Regions from separate parts of the Homo sapiens genome. Here region 1 is linked to region 2. Evidence: fine-mapped expression QTL. Tissue or cell type: skeletal muscle. Region 2 holds a variant in brackets; the other region holds the start of a gene. All regions are shown on one strand. Distances are between the middles of the regions.

The links. PIP is the estimated chance that this variant, and not a neighbour inherited with it, causes the effect.
Region 1: it holds the start of RWDD4, and the variant in region 2 is fine-mapped to the expression of RWDD4 in skeletal muscle (GTEx, PIP 0.98).

What each region holds. Positions count from the first base shown.
Region 1 is chr4:183,654,617-183,663,086 of GRCh38, reverse strand. It overlaps RWDD4 (RWD domain containing 4), which reads left to right and starts at 3,902. Exons shown (of 8, transcript NM_152682.4): 1 at 3,902-4,158; 2 at 7,126-7,206. The coding sequence starts at 4,135. TRAPPC11 (trafficking protein particle complex subunit 11) reads right to left here and starts at 3,794. Exons shown (of 30, transcript NM_021942.6): 1 at 3,640-3,794. RefSeq lists silencers at 3,483-3,772, 4,143-4,352, 4,167-4,387 and enhancers at 3,119-3,906, 3,863-3,992, 3,907-4,695.
Region 2 is chr4:183,611,168-183,619,637 of GRCh38, reverse strand. No RefSeq gene overlaps it. Among named protein-coding and RNA genes, the nearest start is that of RWDD4, 44 kb to the left of the region's middle. The variant C/T (reference allele first, on the strand shown) is at 3,448.

The sequences.
Region 1 (8,470 bases), 43 kb before region 2:
TCAAAAAAAATAAAATAAATAAAATAATCATTACAAAAAGGCAAAAGGCTTTGAGTATCTGCAAACTGTCAAACAAACAGAAGAGAGAAAAAGGGAAAACTTTAATTCCTGAATTAGATCTATTAAAATGTAATAACTATATGACATTTAAGAAAAAATCTTTCATGTTAAAAATGAAGTCAACTTTAAGACAAATCGGCATTTTCAGTAATGTCTCAAAATGCACACAGAACTTTGAAATTAGTAGACCAAGAAAGCAAGAAGGTGATAAAATTAAAATAGATCTACATGATCTATTTCAACTATAAAAGAAAAATATATTGAAAGAAAAATATAAAAGAAAAACAGTTGACTTACATATAATAAACTTCCCCTAATTTCTCTGTAATTGCTAATATTGAATTTCTGAATACCTAGGATATTATTAAAATAGCCTTTAATTTATGTAATTATCTAAATAGTAGCTATGTTGTCTCATTTCCCACAATATAAAATTTACTCTTTAAAGAAAAATCTGTAAGGGAAAAACTAACAATGAATGGAAACCTCTCGGAGGATGTTTCCACTGCGTCCTTTAGCTAAGAATCAGTCCATAATAAATCTAACGTATGCCCTGACTTTATAAGTATATAAAACTATGTTTATCCCGAACAAGACTGTCATTATATTTTTAATATAATCTTACTTGCAAAAGGATGTAACAACATGAGGTTCTTTTTTTTTTTTTTTTTTGAGACGGAGTATCACTCTGTCACCAGGCTGGAGTGCACTGGCCCAATATCAGCTCACTACAACCTCCACCTCCCGGGTTCAAGTGATTCCCCTGCCTCAGCCTCCCTAGTAGCTGGGACTACAGGCATGCACCACCACACCCAGCTAATTTTTTGTATTTTAGTGGACAGGGTTTCACCATGTTGGCCAGGATGGTCTTGATCTCGTGACCTCAGGCGATTGCCAGCCTTGGCCTCCCAAATGAGGTTCTTTTAAAAGATAATCTATACCAGCATATTACAGAGAATTCAGGTAAGGCACAAGTGGCTCATGCCTATAATCCCAGCACTTTTGGAGGACAAGGCCAGAGGATTGTTGAGGCCAGGAGTTCAAGACTGGCCTGGGAAACATAGTGAGATCCTGTCTCTAAAAGAAATAAAAAAGAAAATAGCCGGGCATGGTGGTGCTCACTTGTAGTCCCAGCCACTTGGGAGGCTGAGATGGGAGGATCACTTGAGTCTAGGTGTTTAAAGTTACAGTGAACTATGATTGTGCCACTGCACTCCAGCCTGGGTGACAGAGCAAGATTGTGCCACAAAAAAAAAAAAAAAAAAAAAAGTTATTCCAAACAAAATTATCACTACATTTTAAATATAATCTTATTTGAAAAAGAATGTGTCATGAGGCTCTTTTAAAAGGTAATCTGGCCGGGCGCGGTGGCTCACGCCTGTAATCCCAGCACTTTGGGAGGCCGAGGCGGGCGGATCACAAGGTCAGGAGATCGAGACCATCCTGGCTAACATGGTGAAACCCCGTCTCTACTAAAAACACAAAAAATTAGCCGAGTATGGTGGTGGGCGCCTGTAGTCCCAGCTACTCGGGAGGCTGAGGCAGGAGAATGGCGTGAACCCGGGAGGCGGAGCTTGCAGTGAGCGGAGATCGCGCCACTGCACTCCAGCCTGGGCGACAGAGCGAGGAGACTCCGTCTCAAAAAAAAAAAAAAAAAAAAAAAAAGGTAATCTACACCAGTATACCAGTATATTATGGAGAAGTCTAACACAATCTTTGTGAAAAGTGAGGCACACTTAGGCTAATACCTAATCCCCAAAACATGGAATATTTTCAACTGAAAGGTTAATTTAGGAAAGACTATTAGTCTTCTCATGTTTACATACTGAAAGAACAACAGGTATTCAATAAATGATTTGCAAAGCTTGCCAGAAATGTCTACAACAGATTGTTTTAGAATTGTTTAAATATTTTTAGGACAGGATTAAGTTATGAGGGCAAAGGATTGCATGTTCAGAGAAAGAAACAGTCTAGTTCTGGGTAATGTAGGAATGAAAATTAAAAAGGGGTGACCAGGCTGGGTACAGCGGCTCACGCCTGTAATCCCAGCACTTTGGGAGGCCAAGGCGGGCGATTCACGAGGTCAACGGTTCAAAACCAGCCTGGCCAATAGGGTGAAACCCCGTCTCTACTAAAAATACAAAAATTAGCCGGGCATGGTGATGCGTGCCTATAGTCCCAGCTACTCGGGAGGCTGAGGCAGGAGAATGGCTTGAACCCGGGAGGCGGAGATTTCAGTGAGCCGAGATCGCACCACTGCACTCCAGCCTGGGCAACAGAGCAAGACTCCGTCTCAACAACAACAACAAAAAACAAGTGACCAAAATACAATACGGGCCCCTTTGCTTAATATGAACGAGTCTAGACTAGAGGCCATTTCCTGTAATAACTCCAGAGGCCCAAAAGACATAGCTGTGGTCTTTAAATATGGAGTTGAAATAAGAGGAACTAAAAATGACTGTCATCCAATAGAAATACAAGTCACATAAATAAATTAAAAATTTCTAGCAGTCATATTAAAAAGTAAAACGTGGATGGAATTCATTTTAATATTCAATTTAACGCAGTACAGTATGTCCAAAATATTATCATACTGACAATAATATAAAAGTTATTAATGACATATTTTACCTTTTTTTGTACTGAGTCTTCAAAATCTGGTGTGTATTTCACACTCACAGCACATCTCAATTCAGACTAGCCTATTTCAAATGCCTGATGTAGCTACTGGCTACAGAACTGGACAGCAGAGATCTAAATTATGGGAAATGTGTCCCAAAATTGCTGCACGAAAATTGTATCAGAAAGTCTTGCCACATTCTCCTATGTCACCTGAAATGGTCGTGCTTATTCTGCAGCAAAGGAATTTGAATGAGAACCCCGATAACGCACAGGCGCAGATCGAATGGATTTCAATGACAGGCTGGAAGGAGAAATTTTCAGATATCCAATGGAGCAACCAACGAAACTATACACGAAAGGAGGCGCAGCTATAGAAGGTGAATAATGGATGGGAGATCAAGTAATGCAAGGGAAGTAAACTGGAAACTAGCGTGAAAGATAAGAAAGGTGACCCAATCAAATTGGCAACTAAAAAAACCCCAAAACCTAATGTGGTTACTTTTTTTTTCTTTTAACTAACTGGAAGTTCAGGGTGTTAGGACACAAGGCTGCTAAGAATGGGATTCAGAGATGTTCAACTACAAAACGAACAAAAGAGGAACGACAGTGTGGGGACGAAATGATGTTTCGATGTTAAAGATGAGAAGCAACAATCCAACGTAGGAGAAACACCGTCCCCATGGTCCCAGTATCTGTTCTGGTAGCTCCAGTGAGGAAAGGTAGAGAAATAACCTTGCAGTCCCTAAAGGCAGATATCTTCCTCCTCTTATTCCCCCGTCTTAAACCTGGGAGGCCCTAGAAACGGGTGCGTCTTTCCTCGGGTCTAAAAGAGAAGTGCCAGGATTGCACCCGTCGATGGGATTGCAAAACGCAGGCCCCCAAACCAGCATTGTTAAGAGCTAGCTCTCTTCCTCGGCGGTCCCGCCTGGCCCCGCGGGTCTCCGGGCCCGGACTCACCCAGGCCCCACGCCCCGGGCCCGCTGCAGCTGAGGCCGGTCGCCGCCAGCCGGGAGAAGACGAGGGGAGGCGGGGGGATGTCACAGAACGCCGTGGCCCGTCCCCACCGCCGCAGCCCCACAGCCAGTTCCAACAGGCGAGACTTCCCTGTACCCACCTCCCCCGGCACAGGAAGCACTTTCTGGGCCTGAGTGACCGCGCTCTACACCAATCGCTGTCCCGGAACTTTACGCCGCTCCTCCAAGCGTCAGGGAGACGCTGCACTTCCCAGGCCCCACCAGCCGCGGCTCCGGCTCGTAGCCCACAGCCCACTGCCGGCGGCTGGGCGCTGCCGAGGCTCGGGGCGCGCGCAGTTGGCGTCTGCCAGTGCCAAGACTGTGCCGCCCCCACAGCCGAGGCGCGAAAGGGGGACGCCCGGCCTCTGGGCCGCTGCCTTCGCTTTCTCTTCGTTGTTGCGAACGCCGTCCGCTCAGGAGGCGCCCCGCGACCGGCGCGATGAGTGCCAACGAGGACCAGGAGGTGAGCCCCCCGGCTCAGGGCCCTCTCCCAGCGCGGGCGCGGCGCGCAGCCCCGGGCCCCCGTGAGACCTGGTGCCCGGACAGCCTGCCCGGCACGTGCCCTGTGCCCTCGGAGCCGGCCGGGGTGCCCCGAGTTCACCGGCGTCCCACCCAAGCGCGCGTGAATGGCCAGGAGTCCGCCTCTGCCACTCTTCCCCCCTCATTTTTCATTTTTGCAAATCCGGGAGTCTCCCCTGGTTACTTAATAACAGGGATGAGCGTCCTTGGTGCACGATCCAGTGCTCTTGGCTCTCCTTGAATCCCATGTGTTCAGTGCCTGTTTACTGAGTTAGGCTGATCACCTTTAAATTTTAGTCTGGTCATCTTTAAATCTCTTGGCTAGTAGAGGGCTAATTGAGTTAGTTACATTTCTCATGGAAGAAAATGACACTGGTGGTGCATCTGAGTTTCTGTCCATATTGTTTGGGGAAATCTTTTACCCATCTGTCTGTTTTGAGCATTCATGTACCACCTGAATTTATGGTTTATGCTCAAATATTTCCTTGTGAGATGCCATTTTGACATTGAATCATATAATATTAGAGTTGGGGGGTGGGTGCTACGGGCCATCTGTAGGGGAACCTTCTAACTTTGATAGGTGGGTCGATGATAGCCGCAGGGCTGCACAGTAAGTACGTGGTAGAATCGGGACTAGAAACCAGGTCTTATTGGGTGGTAGATAAGTTCACTGTTAATTTAAAGTATAATGCTTGAAACTTACTACTTTTACATGATAAATGTAATAGAATCTCTGGATTGGAAGTTAACCTTTAAAGGACCCAAAGTCCAACAAGCTAGCTAGTTGATATCTGAATCTCTTCTAAAATATTCTTGCCGGGTGAATTTCTAAGTGAATGCGTTAATAGCTTCTTCTCCCTGCAAAGCAAAGAACATACAGTGTAATGTTTCTCAGAGTTGGACCATAGTCCCCTACCTTAGAACCATTTAGATGGTTGCTAGAAAACAGATGCGTGCACTCCACCCCAGACCTACTGAATCAGAATTTCTGTGGTGGGCCCAGGAATCTCCAGTTTAACAAGAAAATTTCATTCTTCTTTCAGATGACCGATGTTCTGATCTTTGAAGATAGTTTCCTGCCCAGTTTCTCAGACCTTCTCTGAGGAAGTGGTTCCTTTTAGCTTGTCTTCATATATCCATTCTTTGTTAATCTCTTCACTATCCTGGAATCACGTGTTTGTGGACAGATTTTAATTTTTTAAATGTCCTGTTTCAAAATTGTGGCATCTTGCTGTTTTGTCTAGTTAAATTTACTGTCAACTGAAATCTTTTAAGTGCTTTATACAAAGCAATTTGTCTTTCATCTTCAACTTCTACATTTAGGTATCTGAGTATTGATACAAGTTCTACTTACCCTGCTAAATTTCATCATTAGCTTGCTTTTCAAAGACTTTTTGGATTCTTATTCAGCCATCAGCATTATTCACTGTCCCAACAAATTGTCATCCACAAATTTAATAAACTTGCCTCCTATTTTTGTACCTGTCCAAGTCATAAATTAAAATATGGGAAAGGATTAGGGACAGAAGGAGTAGTACTATATCTTGAGTAAGGTTTTTGTTCCAATCTAATCTTAGTTATTCTTGAATCCGGCTTGAATTTCTGTATTTTGTTTTTTTTTGTTTTTTCTGTAAAGGTAGCAAGAGAAACCTGTGGAGCCTGGCTGAAATCTATATAGTCGGTGTTTTATGCCTTTCTTCATTGTGCCAATCAAGTTTCCCTATCTAAGAAGGGTATATCTTGTTTTTCATATACTTACTAGGTCTTAGGGTCTACTCCTTAATGTCCCAGTTCCTCACACACTGTTTCTTCAACAATGTCTTTTTGCTGTTGTTGTTGCTATTTTTGAGACGGAGCCTCGCTCTGTAGCCCAGGCTGGATTGCAGTGGCCCGATCTCGGCTCACTGCAACCTCCGCCTCCTGGGTTCAAGCGATTCTCTTGCCTCAGCCTCCTGAGTAGCTGGGACTACAGGCGCCCATCACCACACCTGGCTAATTTTTGTGTCTTTAGTAGAGATGGGGTTTCACCGTGTTGGCCAGGCTGACCTCGAACTCCTGACCTCAGGTGATCCGCCCGCCTCGGCCTCCCAAAGTGCTGGGATTACAGATGTGAGCCACCGCGCCCAGCCAATAATTTCTATTCTAAAATTTTGACTGTAGATCAAGCCCACTTTCACCATCTTTAGTTTGTAGAATTCATGACATGCATCTTTTTGAAAAACTTAAACGTGTACCCAAGTGCAGTCTTGCTTTACTTCTTTTCTCAGGTATTCATCGGTGATCACAGTGATGAACTTCTCAGTTGTAATACCAAAATGTTCTAAGAACTATGTCCAAGCAAGGATTACTAGTTACATTTTCTCTGACAGTCCTGTCTCATCTTGGGTAGATACTTGTCAGCCTTTTTCTTAAGTTCTTTTTCTTGCCCTTAGGTGTTTTTTAGAGCTTTGTATCACTGTGGGAAGGATTACATATAAAAGAAATGTATGTAAATAATGGGAAAGTATTGTTTTTCATAGTTCTTATCTTTAGGTTTAATGCTCTTTGCACCCAGGTTCGTCTTTAGCCAAGTTCTAAGAGCGCTTGCTCTGGAGTGGCTTTACAGGGAGACTTCCTTGCTTCCCTAGGAAGGAGAAAATAATAGGAGCCTCTTGACAGGGTTGATTTGAGAAGTCAGCGCGATCATACATTGTACAGTGCTTAGTAGTCCCTGACACAGAGTTTGAAAGTAAGTATCATTGGTAGTAATATTGTCATGTGTTGCTGCATGCACCTATGTGGTAAGTATCTAAGGTTATATAAGTTAGTCAAGCTTTTACATAGTTGAGTGGGCTTGAATGAGAAAGTAAAGACCCTCTATTTCTAATTCATTTATACCACTAAACAAAACTCATTCAGTTCTTTATTTCAGATGGAACTAGAAGCATTACGCTCTATTTATGAAGGAGATGAAAGTTTCCGGGAATTAAGTCCAGTTTCTTTTCAATATAGGGTAAGACATGGCATGAATAAGAGCACTTAGAACTTTTCTAGAAAAGACTGAAAGTGGCTAAAAATGCTTATTTTGTTTTTTAAACTTGTTTAAATTTATTATGTCTGTATTTTCTGTAGCATTTAAATGGAAACATCACCCTAACATCAGTCATTTTTAACGTTTGAAAACTTAATTCAGAAGCTTAAAAAACCAAGATAAACTTGTTTTTATTGTACCAGAATCATAAGATACTAGAAATGGAAAAAACCTTAAAAATTATTTAATCTTATCTTTAACATAAAATAGTAACAGTAGGGCTGGGCGCGGTGGCTCTCACCTGTAATCCCAGCACTTTGGGAGGCCAAGGTGGGCGGATCACGAGGTCAGGAGATCGAGACCATCCTGGCCAACATGGTGAAACCCCACTGTCTCTACTAAAAATACAAAAAATTAGCCGGGCATGGTGGCGGGCGCCTGTAGTCCCAGCTACTCGGGAGGCTGAGGCAGGAGAATGGCGTGAACCCGGGAGGCAGAGCTTGCAGTGAGCCGAGATCAAGCCACTGCGACAGAGCGAGACTCTGTCTCAAAAAAAAAATAGTAACAGTATTTTATTTTGTAAATAAGTCATATAAACCTTTTATTCAAATGATTATAAGTAGGCGGGGCACAGTGGCTCACACCTTTAATCCCAGAACTTTGAGAGGCCGAGGCAGGCGGATCACCTCAAGTCTGGAGTTCTAGACCAGCCTGGCCAACAAGGTGAAACCCTGTCTCTACTAAAAATACAAAAATTAGCCACGCATGATGGTGCATGCCTGTAGTCCCAGCTACTTGGGAGGCTGAGGCAGGAGAATCACTTGAACCCAGGAGGCGGAGGTTCCAGTGAGCAGAGATTGTGCCACTGCACTCCAGTCTGGGCGACAGAGCGGGACTCAAAAAAAAAAACAAAAAAAACACACAAATAATTATAAGTAGCGGAATGGGGAAGTTTTTTTTGTAAAAGATTTACAGTTATTATTAACATTGTCACAGTTTAAACTATTAGAAATGATTCTTATGCATGATCGATGGATGACCATCACAGAAAATAAGTTTCTGTTCTCAATTCCCTTTCAAGCTTAACAGTCCTTACACCATCTCCAAGTATGTAATAACCATGGACCTCAAATGTCCAAAGTTAACAGTGGAGCTAAGTCCTAGGCCCTTCGGTTTGAATCCAGTTGCTACTCTCTCCTTAGCAAATGGGAGGTCGAGAATTTCCCTATACTCTCCTAAATATCTC
Region 2 (8,470 bases):
GGTTGCCTGGCAACAATCTAAATGGGACCAGAACCTCCCCCCTCCCCCTGCAGGAGGGGCTGTGCCCAAATGGAACTTCTCACAAGGTCAACAGGTGCTGGCAACAGGCTCTCCAGACAGCGAACTGCCTGAACAGCTGTCACCTAAGCCCAGCCTGCCCGATGCCCAAGCAGACATTTTGTTCCCCCTGGCAAGGCCACTCGGGTTTGCCCTTTAAAAAGAGAACCCAAATGAGTGGGGGCGGGGCCTTGAGGCCTTTCCTTGCAGTCCGGGGCTGTCTTAGTCCAACTAGCCGGACCCAAGCGTCCCTCCGCAGAGGTCTGAGGGGTGGAGACTGATCTTGCGGCATCTCTGCGTGTGAGTGCCAGCCTGCACCAAAAGACGCACTGTTGTCTGCCCAAACCCTTTCAGTGACGCGTTTTGTAAAAATCATCTATGTTTTCCCCCAAATAGCTGTCATCAGTGAAAAGCATCAAAGAAAATCCAATATATGACCACAGAAGAGATAATGCAAAAACTAAAACTGTTCCAAAATAATGCAATAAATATGTTTTCTAACACATGCAAATCAATTTTCTAATAAGATTTGTATGTATGTGTTAGCAAACCTTTATTAGGAACTAAGAGTTAATTCAATGTTAGTTAAACAGTGTGTAGGAAATACTAAGTCAAACTTCTGGAAGTGATTGCGAAAGAAAATCAATGTTTCTTTGAAAACAGATAGTTACAGAGACAGTGATGGTTCATTATGTCTCAACTTGGCTTGGCTGTGGGGCCCAGCTGCTTGGTTAAACACTAACTTGGATGTTGCTGTGAAGGTATTGTGTAGATGTGATTGATACGTACAATCAGCTGACTCTGAGTAAAGTAGATTATCCTCTTGAATGTGGGTGAGCTTCATGCAATCAGCTGAAGGCTTTCAGAGCGGAGACTGAGCCTTTCCCGAGAAAAAAGGAATTCTGCCTCGAGCCTGCAGCACAGAAACTCTGAGTGAGTTTCCGGAGGGCTTGGCCTGCTTTGCAGATTTCGGACTCGAGACGGTAACATCAACTCCTGCCTGAATTTCCAACCTGTGGGCCTGTCCTAGAGATTTCAGACTTGCCGGCCTCCTCAATTACTTGAGCAATTCTTTAAAATCTCTCTCGCTGTCTCTTTGTATGTGTATGTATACATACACACATACATATATATCTCTTATTGGTTCTGTTTCTCCAGAGAACCCTGACTGATACGATTATTTATTCTATTAAGCATTTTACAGAAGTTATTTGAGCAAGAAATGTTTAACAGCTGAGTTTTTCTTTTTCTTTTTTTTCTTTTTTTTTTTTTGAGATGGAGCCTCGCTGTGTCACCAGGCTGGTGTGCAGTGGTGCGATCTCGGCTCACCGGAACCTCCGCCTCCCGGGTTCAAGTGATTCTCCTGCCTCAGCCTCCCGAGTAGGTGGGACTACAGGCGCCCGCCACCACGCCGGGCTAATTTTTTGTATTTTTTAGTAGAGACGGGGTTTCACCGTGTTAGTCAGGATGGTCTGGATCTCCTGATCTTGTGATCTAACCACCTCTGCCTCCCAAAGTGCTGGGATTACAGGCGTGAGCCACTGTGCCCGGCCTCTATATTTACTCTTACTGTAAATGTCATGAGTCAAAGAAATTCCTCAACTGCACTTGGTCACTTGTTTCAATGTCAAAATATATTTAATGTAATTTTGTCTGAAAGTCTAATTTGACTTTATTTTACTGTCATCTGAACATATTCTCTCTTATTTTCCACTCAATGTGAAGATTAAAGTCTCAATCTCTGTGGACTATACAGTAAAGGAATTAAGCCATATGTAATACTACCTTTTCCAGCCAACAGTAATTATCTTAATCAAATTTAGGATAATATGATATTTGGATGATTTCACATTTAGTTCTAAGTAGTAGTATTTAAGAAAAAAACAGGCTGGGCCCAGTGGCTCATGCCTGTAATCCCAGCACTTTGGGAGGCCAAGGTGAGTGGATCATTTGAGCTCAGGAGTTCGAGACCAACCTAGGCAACATGGTGAAACCCCGTCTCTACAAAAGACACAAAAATTATCCCGGTGTGGTAGTGCAGCCCTGTGGTCCCAGCTGCTCAGGAGGCTGAGGCAGGAGGATAGCTTGAGCCTAGGGTGGTCAAGGCTGCTTTGAGCCAAGATCAGGCCACTCTGTACTCCAGCCTGGGTGACAGAGCCAGACTGACCTTGAAAAAAAAGAAAGAGGAAGGAAAGAAAGAAAGAAGAAAGGAAGGAAGGAAGGGGAGGGAAGGGGAGGGAAGGAAGGGAAGGAAGGAAGGAGACAGAAAGAGAGAGAGGAAGGAAGGAAGGAAAAGAAAGAAAAAGAGAAGAAGGAAGGAACAAAAAGAAAGAGAAAGAAAAGAAAGGAAGGAAAGGAGGGAGGGAGGAAGGGAGGGAAAAGAAAGAGGAAGGAGGGAGGGGAAAAAAAGAAAGAAAAATAAAAGAAAAAAAGTAGGGCTTAGTGGCAGTCCCTGTATTGTTTTCACCTGGCAGGCCGCGTAGTGTGAGGAGAGTGGAGGGGTCTGGCCAGGAGGGGAGACTGAACACACACAAGAGGGATTAGTCCAATAGTGAAACATATTGAAAGTGGTGGGAGTCAGGCTTTTCATTGTTGGAAATGAGCTGCAGGGTGAATGATAAGACAACTAATCTGAACCTTATGGTGTTGGATTGGAATTAAAGGCATTGGTGCAAACTCATGGTTTTGAATATATAGATAAGGGTCGGGTGCAGTGGCTCACACCTGCCTTTAATCCCAACATTTTGGGAGGCCAAGGTCGGAGGATCACTTAAGGCCAGGAGTTTGAGACCAGCCTGGGCAACACAGTGAGGTCCCTTCTTTACAAAAAAATTAAGAATTAGCCAGGTGTGGTGGTGCACACCTGTAGTTCCAGCTACTTGGGAGGCTAAGGTGGGAGGATCGCTTGAGCCCAGGAGGTTGAGGCTGCAGTAAGCCAAGATCGTGCCACTGCATTCCAGCCTGGGTGACAGAATGACACCATGTCTCAAAAAAATTATATAGATAAATAAAGATATAATATATTATACAAATATGTGTCTATATTATGTATAATATGTAGATTTAAATGCAGATGAGTGTGTATAATCCTGGATTATGGGGGGGAGGTCCCCAATGTGGTCACAAGGGCGCTTACACAAAGCAGCCATGAGGAGCAGAATCAGAGAGAGGATAAACGGATGAAAGCAGAGGTCAGAGAGGAGGGAAGGTGCTATGCTGATGGCTTGAAGATAGAGGAGGGGGCCATAGCCCAGGAATGCAGGCGTCCTCCAGAAGCTAGAAGGCAAGGGAACGGCTTCTTCCCTGGTGCCTTTAAGAGGAACACAGGCCTGCCAGTGCCTTGATTTTAACCTAGTGACACCGATGGGGAACGTCTGGCCTCCAGAGTTA[C/T]AAAATAATACATTTAAGTTGTTTTAACCCGCTAAGGTTATGGTAGTTTGTTATAGCAGCACTAATACAGTATGACACACAATAGGACACTAATGCAAGTGGCAACAAGTAAATGGAGAAAAAAATGATGCAGTTAGAAAAATCACTGTTTGGTCATTAATAAGGCAATAATTAAATCATCCAAAAATATCAATGGAAGCTAAAATCAGTGAGTCAATGTTTGATAAGAAATGGAATATTGAGGCTGGGCACGGTGGTTCACGCCTGTCATCCTAGCACTTTGGGAGGCCGAGGTGGGCGGTTCACCTGAGGTCAGGAGTTCCAGACCAGCCTGGCCAACATGACGAAACCCAGTCTCTACTAAAAATACAAAAATTAGCCGGGCGTGGTGGCGGGCACCTGTAATCCCAGCTACTCGGGAGGCTGAGGAAGGAAGATTGCTTGAACCTGGAAGGTGGAGGTTGCAGTGAACTGAGATCACGCCACTGTACTCCAGCCTGGGCAAGTGAGTAAGACTATCAGAAAGAAAGAGAGAGAGAGAGAAAGAGAGAGAGAGAGAGAGAAAGAGAGAGAGAGGGGGAGGGAGGGAAAGGAAAGAAAAGAAAGAAGAAACAAAGAAAGAAATGGGATATTTAAATAGTCCCACGTTTCCTTACTGATTCCAAAACATTAGTCATGCACAGTGGAGAAATCTGACAAATACCACCTTAATCAAGTTGATCTCAGCAGAAACGGACAAATCAGAATCATTTGCCACCTGATAGAAGGCAGCGAGAAGACAGCCTCTAGATTGAAAGTGAGTAGAGACATGACCAGTGAAAGCAGCGGGAGACCCTGTCCTGGATCCTTTGACTATAAAGGATACGACTGGTGCAATTGGAGAAACTGGGGTGGAATCTGTAGAGTAGGTGGTAGGAAGATTTCATTGTTAATTTCCTGATTTTGCTGGTGGTATGTTTGCTTGTGTAGGAGAATCTCCTTGTTTGTAGGAATTACAAACTAAAGAATTCAGAATGATGGGGCTTTGTGTCAGCATTACTCTCACATGGTTCAGGGAAAAAAAGTCCTACTATTCTTGAAAATTTCAGTATGTTCGTAATTGTTTGAAAATCAACAACAACAAAAGAGGTATAGGCTCCAGGGAAGATTTTGTCTCCTTGCCTTTCCTGGCTTTTGCATTTCTTTACTCAAGGCCCCTTCCTCAATCTTCAAAGCATCTTCGCCTCTCTCTGACCTCTGTGCCCATCCTTACATCTTCTCTCTGACCCTAACTCCACTGCCTCCTTCTTGTAAGTACACTTGTGATTACTTTGGGTTCATTAGGATTATCCCGGGTGCACATTGCTTATTTTTTTAAACAATATATCTTAAGGGTCTTTCCCTGTCAGATCTTTTAAACATAGTTTTCCTTACTATAAATAAACTGTAATTTATCCATTTCTCTATAAATTGTTTCTAATTATTAGCCATTGCAAACCATGTTATGTGGTATATTCCTGCACTTGTATTCTTCTGCATGTGTCAATATTTCTGTTAAGTCAAAGAACAATTGCTGTACGAAGACATGGGACATTTTGTTAGATGGTGACAAATTGTCATCCCAGAAGACTGTACTTTTAGACTCACTCTGGGTGCACTGCCGAGGAGTTAGCTCTGGAGCAACTAAGGAAAAAAAAAAAAACAGAAACAACTATACCTTTAGATTCCTACCAACAGGCAGAGACCATTCACCCATACATTTACTGAAACAGGATAGTATCAGCTTTCAAATGAGTAAAATATGGTATGTTGTCATCATTCTTTTTGCACTAATCTACTAGACTACTAGAGAATTTGAGCATCTTTTTATGTGCATAAGGGCCATGTGTGTTTCTCTGACTATTAGTATCCTTTACACACATCTCTACTTGATGTTTATGTTTTCCTATTTTTATATGCAACGTGGCAGCGAGACATGACAATCGGCAGTCAGCCTTTTAACTAAGGTCTGTGTTCATTTCTGTTGACCCTGAGCTTGGAGTTTCTCTGGGGCTCTGTTTGGGAGAATGGCACGCCTCTGACAATGCCTGTGTTTAGTGGTGGAACTCTCTGCCTTAGTTTCTTCATAAATTGAGGCCATTTGTTTTCAATATTCCAGAAATCTGTACCACCACCCCCACCAAATTCTGCTTTAATGGTGACAGCCTTTCTTCTTTCCCAGCTCTGTGATGGAGAATGGATTGATTCTCTTAAGAACATATGTTGTGTATCCTTTTCATTAGATCTTGGGAGCTAGGGAGGGAGGTAAAGACAAGCACTGACTGTGTCACCCTCAAACAGGAGGCTCACTGCATTTTCCCCTGGTCTCTTGGGTCATTTTCCAGGACAAGTTTTCAAGTACTGTAGTAAAGGAACGGATTGTCACCCTCAAAAGAAAAGTAGCTCCAATACCAAGAAGAGCTCATGGCAATTTGTGCATTTTACAGAAAAGAGGGGAGGTGAAAGTCATTTATTCCTGAAGATTAGAGCTGCTATATACTTACTTGATAAGTGATAATAGACTAAACAATTATTAAAGAAGTATCTTCCCAGCTGCATTTAATTAAATGTGAGCATCCCTAGGCTGCTGATAGAGCATCCGATGTTTCAGTTTCCAAATGGTGGGGAACTTAACATGAGGATTAGCATACCCAAAATCAAAACTAAGGCATATAACTGAGCATACAGGAGCTCAGGAAATAACGTGATGATTAGAATTCACATTATAGTCTATATCTAGAGACTCAGAAAGAGAATCCATTTGAATATACACGAAGTCCTCATTTAATGTCATAGATAGGTTCTTGGAAACTGTAACTTTAAGCAAAACAATGTATAATGAAACCGATGTTTGTCCCTCATCGATATTATAACCAATGTTATTCAAGGACCTGCTGTACACGTTGCTTAAAGTCACAGTTTCAAAGACTCTACCTATGATGTCAAGTGAGGACTTACTGTATAAATGTACTAATTTTTTTCAGAAAGGAGGTTTTGGTGATAACCTCTGAAGGTAATTAGAAACGATGGCTTCCCCTAGAAATGTCTTTCAAAGAGGAGTTAGGAAACCAGAAGGAGCTGTGATGCTGACGTCCCTGAGAGCTGAGTGCAAGTCGGCGATGCTTGGTAGTCATCAGCTCAAGGACAGCTCAAGGGGCAGAGTGTGTCTGAGCAGGGGACGGAGAGATATGAGACAATGACAGCATGTGTGAAAACGACCCCTGTACTTGGTAGGACCGGCCTACATGGGAAGAGACAAGATACAGCAGAGCCCATGCACCCGGGGTGGGGGACAGGGAAGCAAAGCCGCCATGCGACCAGTGAAGGGGGAAAGCCGGCGTCACGGGGCAGCCAGAAGCATGTGTGCAAGGATGCGCTGGAGGGAACAGAGCCGACAGGACGTGTAGAGATTTATATTCAGAGATTTGTGCCAGGGAATTGGCTCACACAGTCCTGTTGGAGGCTCACACAGTGCTGTTGGTGAGCCCACAGTCCGCAGGGTAGGCTGGCAGGCTGGAGACCCAGGAAAGCACTGATGCTGCAGATCAAATCCCAAGACAGTCTGCTGGCAGAATTCCTCCTTCTTCAGGGGAACCTCAGCCAGTTTTCTCATAAAGCCTTCAACTGCTTGTGTGAGGCCCACCCACATTACAGAGGACCATCTACTTTACTCAAAGTCTAGTGACTTAAATGTTCATTTCATCTTTAAAATACCTTTGCACAGCCTGGGAAACATGAGGAAACCCCCTCTACAAAAAATACAAAAACTAGCCGGGCACGGTGATGCTCACCTGTAGTCCCAGCTACTTGGGAGGCCGTGGTGGGAGGATCACTTAAGCCCAGGAGGCAGAGGTTGCAGTGAACCATGTCTGCACCACCACACCTCAGCTTGGGTGACAGAGTGAGACCCTGTCTCAAAAAACAAAAAAGGAAATAAAATAAAAAAACAAACCTTTGCAGCAACAAAGATGTTTGAGGCTGAGTGTGGGGCTCATGCCTGTAATTATAGCACTTTGTGAGGCCAACGAGGGCAGATCACTTGAGGCCAGGAGTTTGAGACCAGCCTGGCCAACATGGTGAAACCCCGTCTCTACTGAAAATACAAAAATTAGCTGGGTGTGGTGGCGGGCGCCTGTAGTCCCAGCTACTAGGGAGGCTGAGGCAGGGGAATCGCTTGAACCCAGTTAGGGGAAGTTGCAGTGAGCTGAGATCGTGCCATTGCACTTCAGCCTGGGTGACAGAGTGAGACTCTGACTCAAAAACAAACAAACACAAACAAACAACAGGGGTGCTTAATCAAACACCTTTGTTGCTGCAAAGGATTGTGTTTGTTTGTTTGTTTGTTTTTAGGCTGGTGTTTGATCAAATATGTGGGTGCCATGACCTACCCAAGTTGACAGCTAAAATTAACCCTCTTCTCCACCCTTTTTCCTGGGTTCCTTTTCAATTGTTCAAGAGGCCTGGGATGAGGCAGATGGCGGAAATTCCCGCAATTCTGCAGATAGTGAAGAAATGCTGTTTGGTTTCTGTTGTTATTGCCTGGGAACTAATCACCCTGCGGGAAAATTAACGTCGTTATTCCATGCCACACCACATGCACATGCCCACTAAGTACATGGACACACCTACACACAGATATCTTCCCAAGTCCTGACAAGTCCCTCCTGTCACGACTGAAGCCCATCACCCTAAGCCTCAGTCCTCAAAGTTCCAGAGGAGAAAGGAGCCATACGTGTGTGTGTGTGTGTGCGTGTGTGTGTGTGTGTGACGGAGTCTCGCTCTATCCCCAGGCTGCAGTGCAGTGGCGTGATCTCAGCTCACTGCAACCTCTGTCTTTCAGGTTAAAGCAGTTCTCATTCCTCAGCCTCCTGAGTAGCTGGGCTTACGGGCGCTCTACCACGCCCAGCTAATTTTTGTATTTTTTTTTTTAGTAGAGATGGGGTTTCGCTATGTTGGCCAGGCTGGTCTCAAATTCCTGACCTCAAGTGATCCCCCTGCCTCGGCC